Linked DNA regions of Homo sapiens: region 1 is linked to region 2. The links come from fine-mapping of genetic effects on gene expression. A gene starts in region 2. The other region holds a variant in brackets. All regions are shown on one strand. Distances are between the middles of the regions. Region 1 has its middle 32 kb from the start of ECE1-AS1. Region 2 holds the start of ECE1 (endothelin converting enzyme 1).

The links. PIP is the estimated chance that this variant, and not a neighbour inherited with it, causes the effect.
Region 1: its variant is fine-mapped to the expression of ECE1 in whole blood (TOPMed, PIP above 0.99).

Annotation. Positions count from the first base shown.
Region 1 is chr1:21,322,901-21,328,377 of GRCh38, forward strand. It overlaps a transcript of ECE1 not described here. Among named protein-coding and RNA genes, the nearest start is that of ECE1-AS1, 32 kb to the left of the region's middle. RefSeq lists enhancers at 817-1,377, 4,740-5,298. The variant CAT/C (reference allele first, on the strand shown) is at 2,128.
Region 2 is chr1:21,287,676-21,292,675 of GRCh38, forward strand. ECE1 (endothelin converting enzyme 1) reads right to left here and starts at 2,788. Exons shown (of 19, transcript NM_001397.3): 1 at 2,689-2,788; 2 at 2,395-2,481. The coding sequence starts at 2,739. RefSeq lists an enhancer at 1,232-1,793 and silencers at 2,470-2,639, 2,690-2,869.

The DNA of each region.
Region 1 (5,477 bases), 35 kb after region 2:
TGGAGGGAGGGCAGGTCCCAGGGCTCAGGGGTTGGGGTCATTTCCAAAAACAAGGCTGCTTACACTTTCCCAAAGCACCCACATGGCAGAGGAGAGTCAACCTGTGCCCTGGCAGGACTGAGGACACAGCTAAAAGCTGTGAAAAAAGCTTAAGTCTCATTTCCTTTTGAATCTCAAAAATTCATGCCAATTCTGCATTCTGCTCCAAAATAGTACCTTTTTATTTTATGATGCAAGTACCCTACTCTGATCCCCAGGGCAATCTCACACACTGGTATGAGAAGCTCAAATATAAAAATTAAGCATGAAACCTCAAGAGTGGATAAGCTGACCTTGAGGGCGTAGGTGGAGAAAGGCCCTAGCCTCCCAGAACAACACAGCTGGAACCGGCGGGGGGAGGGTTATGGATCAAAATACACAATAGCCCTGACTGCAGGCCGGATACTCTGCCAGGGGCTCACATCCATTCACTCATTCATTTTCCTCTTACCCTCTTTAAAATCGTGTGCCTACTACGTGTTAGCACTGTTCTCGACAGATATAGCAGGAAACAAAACAGACAAAATCCTTGCCTTTGGGCCAAGTGCAGTGTTCATGCCTGTAACCCCAGCACTTTGGAAGGCTGAGATGGGAGGATCACCTGAGCCTGGGAGTTCGAGACTGCAAAGAGCTGTGATTGTGCCACTGCACTCCAGCTTGGGTAACGGAGTGGCACCCCGTCCCAAAAAACTAAAAATAAAATAAAATAAAATAAAATAAAATAAAATAAGCCTTGCCTTCATGAAACTTATATGCTAGTAGGAGACAGAATAAATAAGACAAATCAAATATGCAGCATGTTAGACTGTGGGAGGGGCTAAGGGGAGCAATGAGGTAGTGAAGGGAGACAGAAAATGGGAGATGGGGGCAATTTTCTTTCTTTTTTTTTTTTTTTTGAGACATAGTTTCACTCCATTGCCCAGGCTGGAGTGCAATGGTGCAATCTCGGCTCACTGCAACCTCCACCACCCGGGTTTCAAGCTATTTTCCTGCCTCAGCCTCCTTGAGTAGCTGGGATTACAGGTATGCACCACCATGCCCGGCTAATTTTTTTGTATTTTTAGTAGAGATGGGTTTTTGCCATGTTGGTCTGGCTGACCTCAAACTCCTGACCTCAAGTGATCCACCTGCCTCAGCCTCCCAAAGTGCTGGGATTACAGGCATGAGCCACTTCACCCGGCCTGTTTTGTTTTTAAAGAGACAAGGTCTCACTCTGTTGCCCAAGCTGGAGTGCGGCCTTGACCATAGCCCATGCAGCCTCGACCATAGCTCATGCAGCCTTGACCTCCTGGGCTCAAGCGATCCTCTTGCCTCAGCCTCCCAAGTAGCTGGGACTACAGATGTGCACCACCACACCCGGGCTCATATAGCTTCTTAACTGGGTGGGCAGAGGAAGCAGGGGGCAGAGGCCCATCCCCAAGGGAGAAACCATCCATCAGTGCGGGACTGACAGGGACACTCCACCCACTCAGCCCAGTGTGCTTCTGTCCAGGGAGACTCCAACGGCTGCCACAGCTGTGGTTTACTGACTTCAGGTCTGACTGCCCTCTCCAGAGCTGCCCTAGAATCCCTTTGTCTGTGGCTGAAGTGTCCCTCAGAGCTGAGGAACAAGTTTGGAGAGGACCAGGAGGGGCTCTCCCCACCCCCGCCCCTTTCCCACATGAAGAGAAACATTTCAGGGTTGAAAAAATGACTCATTCTCCCCAGAGAGGGCTGGAGCTGAGCTGAGTCAGGCAGAAGGAGCCCGCGGGTCACTTAATCGGCCTCCCTGCTCTGGCAGAGATGGCTCTGGGCCCCAGGAAGCCAGGGACAAATGGAGGCGGAGGTGGCAGAGATAAGCAGCTAGTGGAGTGTGCCAGCCTCTCCTTCCCCAACCGAGTGTGTCACTGGGCGTCACCCAGCACTGCTCAAGTTGAACCTGATGCAGAAGAAAAATTCCTCTGGACTTTCCTGAACGAGCTTTATGGCTGACTCACTGCCACCTGGAGCCTGCAAGAAAAGTCACAAATCACGAAAGAAGGAGAAAAACAGTTCTCGTTAAGCCATGTCTTCAATGGAGGTATCAGAGGTCGCCAGGAGGAAAGCACA[CAT/C]GTTTTGTTGTGGGTTTCCTTCTCTAAAGAAACACGTTACACAATAGAGGGGGGTTGAGACTGGTTGCAAAACTGCAAAATCCAATTTTGTGTACTGGATTCAATTTCTTCATTAGCTGACACTAAACACAGAGACGGGGCCCTTGTGACTAGATGAACCATAAACTGGCTCCAGGACCACCAACCTGGTACCTGATGGCTTGTTTCTGCTCCCCACTCTTTCCCTCCATGCATCTTTCTCTGAGCTTCTGCTCAAGGCAGGTGCCAGGACAAGCCAGCGTCTCGAGCGGTTCCCCTTCAGCGGTGAGAAGTAACGTCACAATTAAGGGGCAAGAGGGGCCAGAGGACAGAACAGTGCCAGTTCCTCATCCAGATTGAAATTTGCTTCCAGCTGCCTGTCCCCACACCAGAAAGGGCACTCCCTGCTCCCCATGCAGGCTTCTCATCCTCTTTTGCTGGCCTCCTCCCTCCTCGCTGTCCCTGGTCTTTTTCAGCCACAAGCAAAACACACTCAGCCTTGAAGTCAGATGCTCTACAGAAGCCTGCAAAAACAGAGTCAGGAGTTGTGTGGCCTTGGCCGAGTCACCTCACCTCACCAAGCCTCAGCCTCCTCACCTATTAAATGGGGACACAATAGGACCCACTTCCTTGGAGCTGACTGAGGTATGAATTGAGTCAATGCATTCATTGCTCAGCACACAGCTTAGCTCAAAGTTAATGCTCAATAAATTGTGGTTCCCACCTCCTGCTCCACGGAGCAGACATGAAACAGGTACGAGAAGCAACGAGAAGGGGCGGCAGCAGAGCATCAACACACAGGGAGTCCTGCCTACTGTCCCGACGCCACCCAGAGGCTCAAGGGGTGCCCCGGCTGCTCTCCGAAGCTGCCGGTGGCACTTTCGCCAGCCACCTTGTTTCCAAACTTGCTGCCAGCTTCCCCTAGCGCAGTGATTTCCACAACGGAGCTCCCGGCTGTGGGAAGGGGGCTTTCTTTGACTTGTCCTAAAATGGCCTCACCTGGACCCAGTGGGGTGTGGGGACCAGGGGGCTGGGCCTGGACCTATGAGCATGTTTCCTGCCTCCTCTCAGCCCCCATCCTTCTGCCGCCCCACGTTCTCAGCCAACAATAGCTGCTTCCCAGACTCAGCTGCCACACAGCACGAGCTCCCTGAGCAAAAATACCCATGCGGGGGAGGGTGGGGAGGTACAGGAGGGGCCACAAATGGGGAGGGCTGGGAGAAGGGGTGGCAGGATCAAGCTTGTCTCTTGAGTGCCTACTGTGTGTCAAGCTGAGAAGGGTGAAGCCCCTGGGGGTTAGAGAAACCTGGGAGACCGTGGGGTGTGTGTGTCGGGGGTGCTGGTCTCTAAGACAGCAGAGCCTCCAGTCCCCAGAGAGGGATCAGACCCAGGTCCAGGGTCTAAGGGTGAAGAAGGGGTCCAGGGAGAAGAAGGTGCCTAAGCAGGAAGCAGGTCCTAGAACCTAGTGAGAAAAAAGGGGGGCCTGAACCCCAAAGAGAGATCCAAATCTTAAGGAAAATAGGGGCTCAGGTTCGAGGAGATGAGGTTCATAATAGGGGGGTTATATTTCTGGTTTCAGGAGGGGGATGGTTTGGAGCAGCGTAGGGAGGTGGGGCGAGGCCTGCAGAGCTAAGAATCCATTTAACTGAGCAGCATCTCAGAGGTCTTAGGTGCCAACTGGGGTGACATCAGGGAAGAAAACAGAAATCCTAAGACAGCAGCCAGCAGCCTGCAGTTACGGAGCCTGGATGGGGAAGCAGCTCCCCGCTGCTGGGGAGACCCCACTGAGCACAGAGAGGGTCTCCCCAGCCTTTGGCCCCTGCGTCTCCTTTCTCTTCATGACAGGGCATCAGCTCGGGTCCCTGGAAACACCCCCGCTCCCCAGCAAGGGGCTGTGTTTGCACAGTGGCTCTGGCCCCTAAACCCCACCTCTGTGGACTCCGTCAAAGCCTGGGGAGGGCAGGGTCCTGAGGGCCCTGGTCTCGCTGGGGTCGCATAGGTCACATGGAAAGAATTTGGAGGTCACAGCACTGCCCTCCCTGTAGATGCTTCAAAGCACCCCACTCCCTTGAAGCTGCCAGACTCTGCAGGCAGCAGGGCATGGGGAGGGACGAAGCCACCAGGAGACTGGGAAGAGGGACTCTGCCAGAGCAGCTGCCAGGAATCTGGGGCCTGGAGTCCATGTTTGGCTGGAAGGCCCTGGGATGGGAGGCTCCAGCTTAGCGTCTGGCTCTAACGCTTGGACTGTGTGACTCCGGTGGCTCATGCAACCTTTCTGGGCTCTGTTTTCTCATTTGTCAAAGCGACGGGCTGATCCCCTGCCCCACTCCAATCAATCACCAGGCCCTGCCCACTCTACTCAGTTTCTCTGTCTGCCTCTCCCTCACCACTACCACTGGCCTGGGCAAAGCCACCACCATTTTCTGATGCCACTCTTGCCCTCCCCACTCAAGTCAAGTTGGATCATCTTAGCTCCCTGCTGACACCCCTTCGAGAACCGGGAGACCTCCACCCTGCTTGTTACACATTTTTGCCTTTTCTTACTTTGAGGGCACAAATGGAGTCTTTTGGTATAGAGGAAAATAAAGCCTCACCTGGTCTGCACGGCCCTGCGGGACCCAGCCCTGACCACCCTTCAGCTTCACCCTTCCTCTCTACTCCAGCTACACAGCTGGGGTCCCCAGCCCCCCGGGCCTCAGACCAGTACCAGTCCATGGCCTGTTAGGAACCGGGCCGCACAGCAGGAGGTGAGCTGTGGGTGGACATTACCGCCTGAGCTCTGCCTTCGGTCAGATCAGCGGTGGCATTAGATTCTCGTAGGAGCGCGAACCCTATTGTGAACTGCACGTGCGAGGGATCTAGGCTGTGCATTCCTATGAGAATCTATGAGAATCTAACTAAGGTGATGAATCTAACTAACATGAACTGAGGTGGAACAGTTTCATGTACCTCAGATCATCGGGCTTAGTTAGATTCTCATAAGGGAAACCATTCTTCACACCCTGTCCATGGAAAAATTGTCTTCCACGAAGCCTGGCACCAAAAAGGTTGGAGATTGCTGCTATAGGTCACTCACCCCAGGACCTTTGCACATGCTGTTCTCACAGCCTAGACTCTTTTTCTCTCCATTTATTTGCCTGGTTAACACTTAACACATCTTTCAGATCTCTTCTCAAATCCTTCTTCCTCAGGGATGTCTTCCCTGCTCCTGCTCTCTGCCAGGGATGGCTCCTCTGACATAAACTCCCATAGCAACCTGCTTATAGTTAGAGATCTGTGCAACTGTCCAAGACCATGCCTGCTTGCTAACCATTCTAGACCTTGTGCCTG
Region 2 (5,000 bases):
TAAATATATTTTTATATGTTGGTACCATGAGGTGTTATGATTTTTAATGGCAGCATGTTTCGGAAGTTTCTGACAATGTAGAAGATGCTGAATGAAAAATGCGGGATATAACATTGTGTATTTACAGTGAGCTCAACTATGTTTAAAAATACATACATACAAGTGTGAAAAACTAGAAACCGTTATCTCCAAGTGGCAGGATTACTGCTCCGTTTTTAATTCCTTTTTATACTTGACTATCTTTTTTTCTCCCCCAAGTGAGCATATAAAGCTTTTACACTGGGGAAAAAAAAAAAAACAATGATTGAAAACATTCAATTAATAGAATACTCTGCCTCATAAATGGAGATGAATGGGTCCTTGACTCAGAAAAGCAAGCACTGGCTACTTCATGTTCACTTTGGGGAAGTTGTGGCAACACCACACAAGCCAAGCTGGGTACCCACAAAAATGCCCCAAATCCTTGCATAACCTCTTTGCCTTTTCCTGCAAGGAAAGTGGAAAATGTATCCATTTGGGGACAGGACACTAACTCCAACCATAGACAACAGCGACGTGACCCCAGGAATGTCTCTAACCTCTCTTTGTCCCTCACCTTTATCATCAATAATGTGGCCACGCCAGCCCTTACTTCATGGGTCATAAAACAATAATCCTAGCAGGCTGCATATAATATGTATGACATCCACTTTCTCTAACATCCATTTCACAGTGAGGCCATCACCACTGAAAGAGATTAAGCCACTAGCCCAAGGTCGTGAGTGGAGTAAGAACTCAAACCCGGGTCGCTGGCTTCAGAGACGGGGCTCCTCCTGCTTGGCCGGGGGCCCTCCCCAGAGAAATGTGCTATTTCATCTGAAAAAGGTTATACCCCAAACAGGCTGCTGTGAGGATAACAGCAACATGGCATTATTACTTTGCTGTGAATTCTGAAATGCTTTTGTGTTGATATATTTAGACCCTTCTGTGGAAGATGAGACTGAAAAACATTGCTGATTAGATTCTGTTTTGATTTGAGAAGGGAAAAGCACCTGCCCCAGAAATCTAATTTCCTGCTGGCTTCAGCCTCTTAAGAAGAGTCCACTGGGAAGAGGTTTGAGACAGACAGGGTTTGACGTGTCGCTCTCGGATTTTTAGCTCGGTGACCGAAGGCCAGTGGTTGCCCCTCTCAGAGCCTCAGTTTCCACATCTGTAAGTGGGGACAGTAATCCCTACAGGTCTCAGGGGTGTTCCTGAAGGTTAAGCAGGGGTACCACACATCCCAGTGGGTAGAGCCCTTGGGACTGTGAGTTTGGGTCCCCTGGGCCTATGTGACCCTGGAGGAGGAACTCCATCAATGGTGTCTCCCTGCGCTGGGAGGATTATTCCCGCTTCTAAGAGGCGTATCTGAGTGGAGTGGGCCTGGCAACTAAGCGTCCATTCATCCTAAGCTCGCCTTTGGGAAGAGTTGTGTGCCAGTTCACCAAGTGGCCCCAAGATTCTCCCAAATACTTCCCTTGGTCTACCTGGCAGAAGTCCTCCGAGAATTGGGGTGCCCCAGCTCCTCTTTCTACACTGGCTTCTCAAGAGCCAGATCACTGGGTCTCCTAGGGTGTCCGCAGCGTTTCCAGCACCTTCCCACGCACCTGGCTGGCTCCAAACCCCTCCAGCACTGAGGTCTTGGCCACAACTGTCCCAGTGCAGCCCCCCAGGGACGGGAGGGCAGAAAGCAGCCTTGCTCAATGTCCTGTTACAAGGCAGGGACGGGGGTGGGGCCCTCCCCAGGAGTGGGCAGATGGGATGCCCACGGGCGGAGACCCTGGGGAGGGGAGGAATTGGACTTCCTTAGTAGGCTGGAAAAGGGGCAGGGAGAGGGGGCAGAGAACAGGTTTCTGGCCCCAGGAAACTCAGGTATTGGGAGGGCAAGAGGAAGAGGGTGGTACTGCCTCCCGGATAAGGTGACCAACTTTCCCAGTTTGCCCCGGACTGGGGGAGTGGGTTCCAGGGATGCAGGGCTTTCCACGCTAAAACAGAAACAGCCGTAGACTCTGCCGGTAAAGGGCCTGGGCAAGTCCCGGGACATGCACAAACTGTGCCTTCTGTGGAAAGGGAACTGGACCAGTTCGGGTCTCGGGGGTGCTTTCAACTCTGCCACCTGGGCTGTGGCCCCAGAAGCAGGTGGCCGGGAGGCTCTAGGGATGGCGGGGGCAGGTGAGGGGAGACTGGTGGGCTCCGGAAGGCTTCTCAGCGCGGAGCTCCAGCTGCGGGGAGGCGCGGCCCCTCCCGGATGCCGGGACGAGGGAGGGGAAGGGAGGGGAAGAGGCGGGGTAGGTAGGGGCGGGGGGCGCGGCAGCGGCAGCGCGCATGCCCGGGCCCGGGGCGCCTGGACCTCGGGAGGGAGCGGAGGGCGCCTACCTGCAGGCCGTTGGGGTATGCGTCGCCCTCGGAGAGCGAGTCCACCAGGTCCTCCTCGTCCAGCGTGGCCCGCTTGTACGTCGACATCTGCAAGGCCAAATGCAGCACGGACTCCCTCAGCGCCTCCATGGCTCTCGCGCCCGAATGGGGAAGCGGCCCCGACCCTGGCGCCGCCGCCGCCGCGCCCCGCCCCGGCCTGGACACCCGAGACCGAGACCGGCCCACGGAGCGGCCCGCGCGGGGAGGGGTCCCGCCCGCCTCCCGCCCCCGCCCTCCAGGCCGCGCCCGCCTCACCCCCAGCGCCGACAGCAGGGCGGACACCGGGGGCGGCCACACGCCCCGCATGCTGTGCCCCAGACGCCTGGTCCCGCTGCCCGGGTGGCCGGGATGGGATGGGCCGGGCCAGGCGTTGCACCACCTTCGCGGGCGGGGCCTGATCGGTTCGCCGGCGCCCGGTTCCCAACCTCCGGCCTCCCGGGGAGACCCCAAGACCCGAGAGGCCCGGGGGAGATGGGGACCCCTCCCTTCCCCGGAGGTCGGGAGTGGGGGCCCCCAAACTGAAGCCCCTAGCAGGCAGGAAAGGCCCTCACAGTGACCCCTCCTTCGAGAAAATCTTAAGTCCCCCTTCAACAACCGGGTCCCCAGTGGCAGATAACAAAAGTATCAGGAAGGTGCCCTCGATGTGGCCCAGAGCAATCAAGACAGGTTCCCCCCGGCATCAGCCCTTAGGTGTGTCTAGGGGGTTAATGCTAGAAAGACCAGACAAAAAAGGTGGGGTAAAAAGGTAGGTGTCCCCTTTCAGTTCCCCTTTCTAGCTCAGAGGCCTTTAAGCCAGAGTTCGTGAATGAGTTTCAGAAAATTTCAGAGAACTCCCTGACACGGGATGAAAGGAGCTGTGTGTGTGCATTTGGATGGCTGCAGGGTGGTCCGGTGGTCACCCCCGTGCTCAAAGGTGTCGCCCTCCCTGCAACACAAGAGAACCATTGCTCCAGGGGGAGTCAGAAGCCAGGAAGGGGACCCTTCTTTCCCATCTTCCCCCTCAAGACTCGGAGCCTCAGCCAGGTGCCCCCCTCCCCAGCCCCTGAGCCCTCTCCTATAACCCTAGGCAGGGAAAGGGGGCTCTCTCGGATATGAGGTGTTCAGTTAGGGACTCAGGCCCAGCACTGTCCCAACCAAGAACCCCAGAGAGGTCTAACCCAGCAGATTTCCAAAGGACTCTCCGCTTCTAGCAAGGCGGGAATCCCTGCATTTATGCGTACTTTTCAGCTTTGCAAAGTGCATTTCTGCTCATTCCAAATTTGATTCTCACAGTCACACATATGTGTGAATAAACAGGTTTAGAGGGGTGAGGGGCCTGACGTCACAGGGACAGTGAGGGCAATGGCTCCAGATGGTCTCCTGGCTTCCACTCCTGCCCTCTGACAGCCCCCTCAGCAGCCAGGATGAGCCTTTAAAATGAAATCTGGCTGAGGCCAGGCACCATGGCTCGCTCGCGCCTGTAATCCCAACACTTTGGGAGGCCAAGTTGGGTAGATCACTTGAGGTCAGGAGTTCAAGACCAGCCTGGCCAACATGATGAAACCCCATCTCTACTAAAAATACAAAAAATCAGCTGGGCCTGGTGGCATGCATCTGTAATCCTAGCTACTCAGGAGGCTGAGGCAGAAGAATCGCTTGAACCCAGGAGGTCGAGGTTGCAGTGAGCTGAGATTGTGCCACTGTACTCTAGCCTGGGTGACAGAGTGAGACTCCATCTCAAACAAACAAACCACAGAAATCTGGCTGGGTTCAGTGGTTCACACCTGTAATCCCAGCACTTTGGGAGGCTGAGGCAGGAGATCACTTGAGTCTAATTCTAGGCCAGCCTGGGCAACACGGACCCCATCTCTACAAAAAGAAAATATATATATATATATTTATATATTATATATTTTTAATTAGCAGGACGTGGTGGTATGCGCCTGTAGTCCCAGCTACTTGGGAGGCTTAGGTGGGAGAATCGCTTGAAGCCAGGAGGTGGCGGCTACAGTGAGCTGTGATTGCACCACTGCACTCCAGCGTGGACGACACAACAAGATCTTGTCTGAGTAAATAAATAAAATAAAAAAAAATTCTGATATTACCACTCCCTTGCTTAAAAACCCTCCACTGTCCTGGAATGAAATCCAAACCCTTCACCAGGCCCCATGGCCCCTGCCCACTCTGGGCCCTCATCTTGTGCTGCCAGCGCCCCCTCCCCCACCAACCTCCTCACACAACTCCTCAGTTTCTACAAGTTTCTTCTTCCCCCAAGACCTTTGTAGCTGCTGTTGTCTCTATCTGGAACATTTTTTCCTCCTCTCTACTCTTCCCATGGTCAGCTCCAACTTCAGATCTCAGCCTACCAGCTCCTCAAATGTCCCAGGAACCCTAAGCAGTCCCCCAAATTCTCTGTTACAGCATCCTGTTTGTTTTCCTTTACAGTACTTGTTGCAGACTGTTTTGTTTCCATGTCTTTATCATCACTGTCTCTGTCCCTCTCCAGAATCCACAGCTTTACTGGGGCTGGGACCTTGTCTGGCCTGTCCAACAGAGACTCTCCATCACCCGGCACAGAGTAGGTGCTC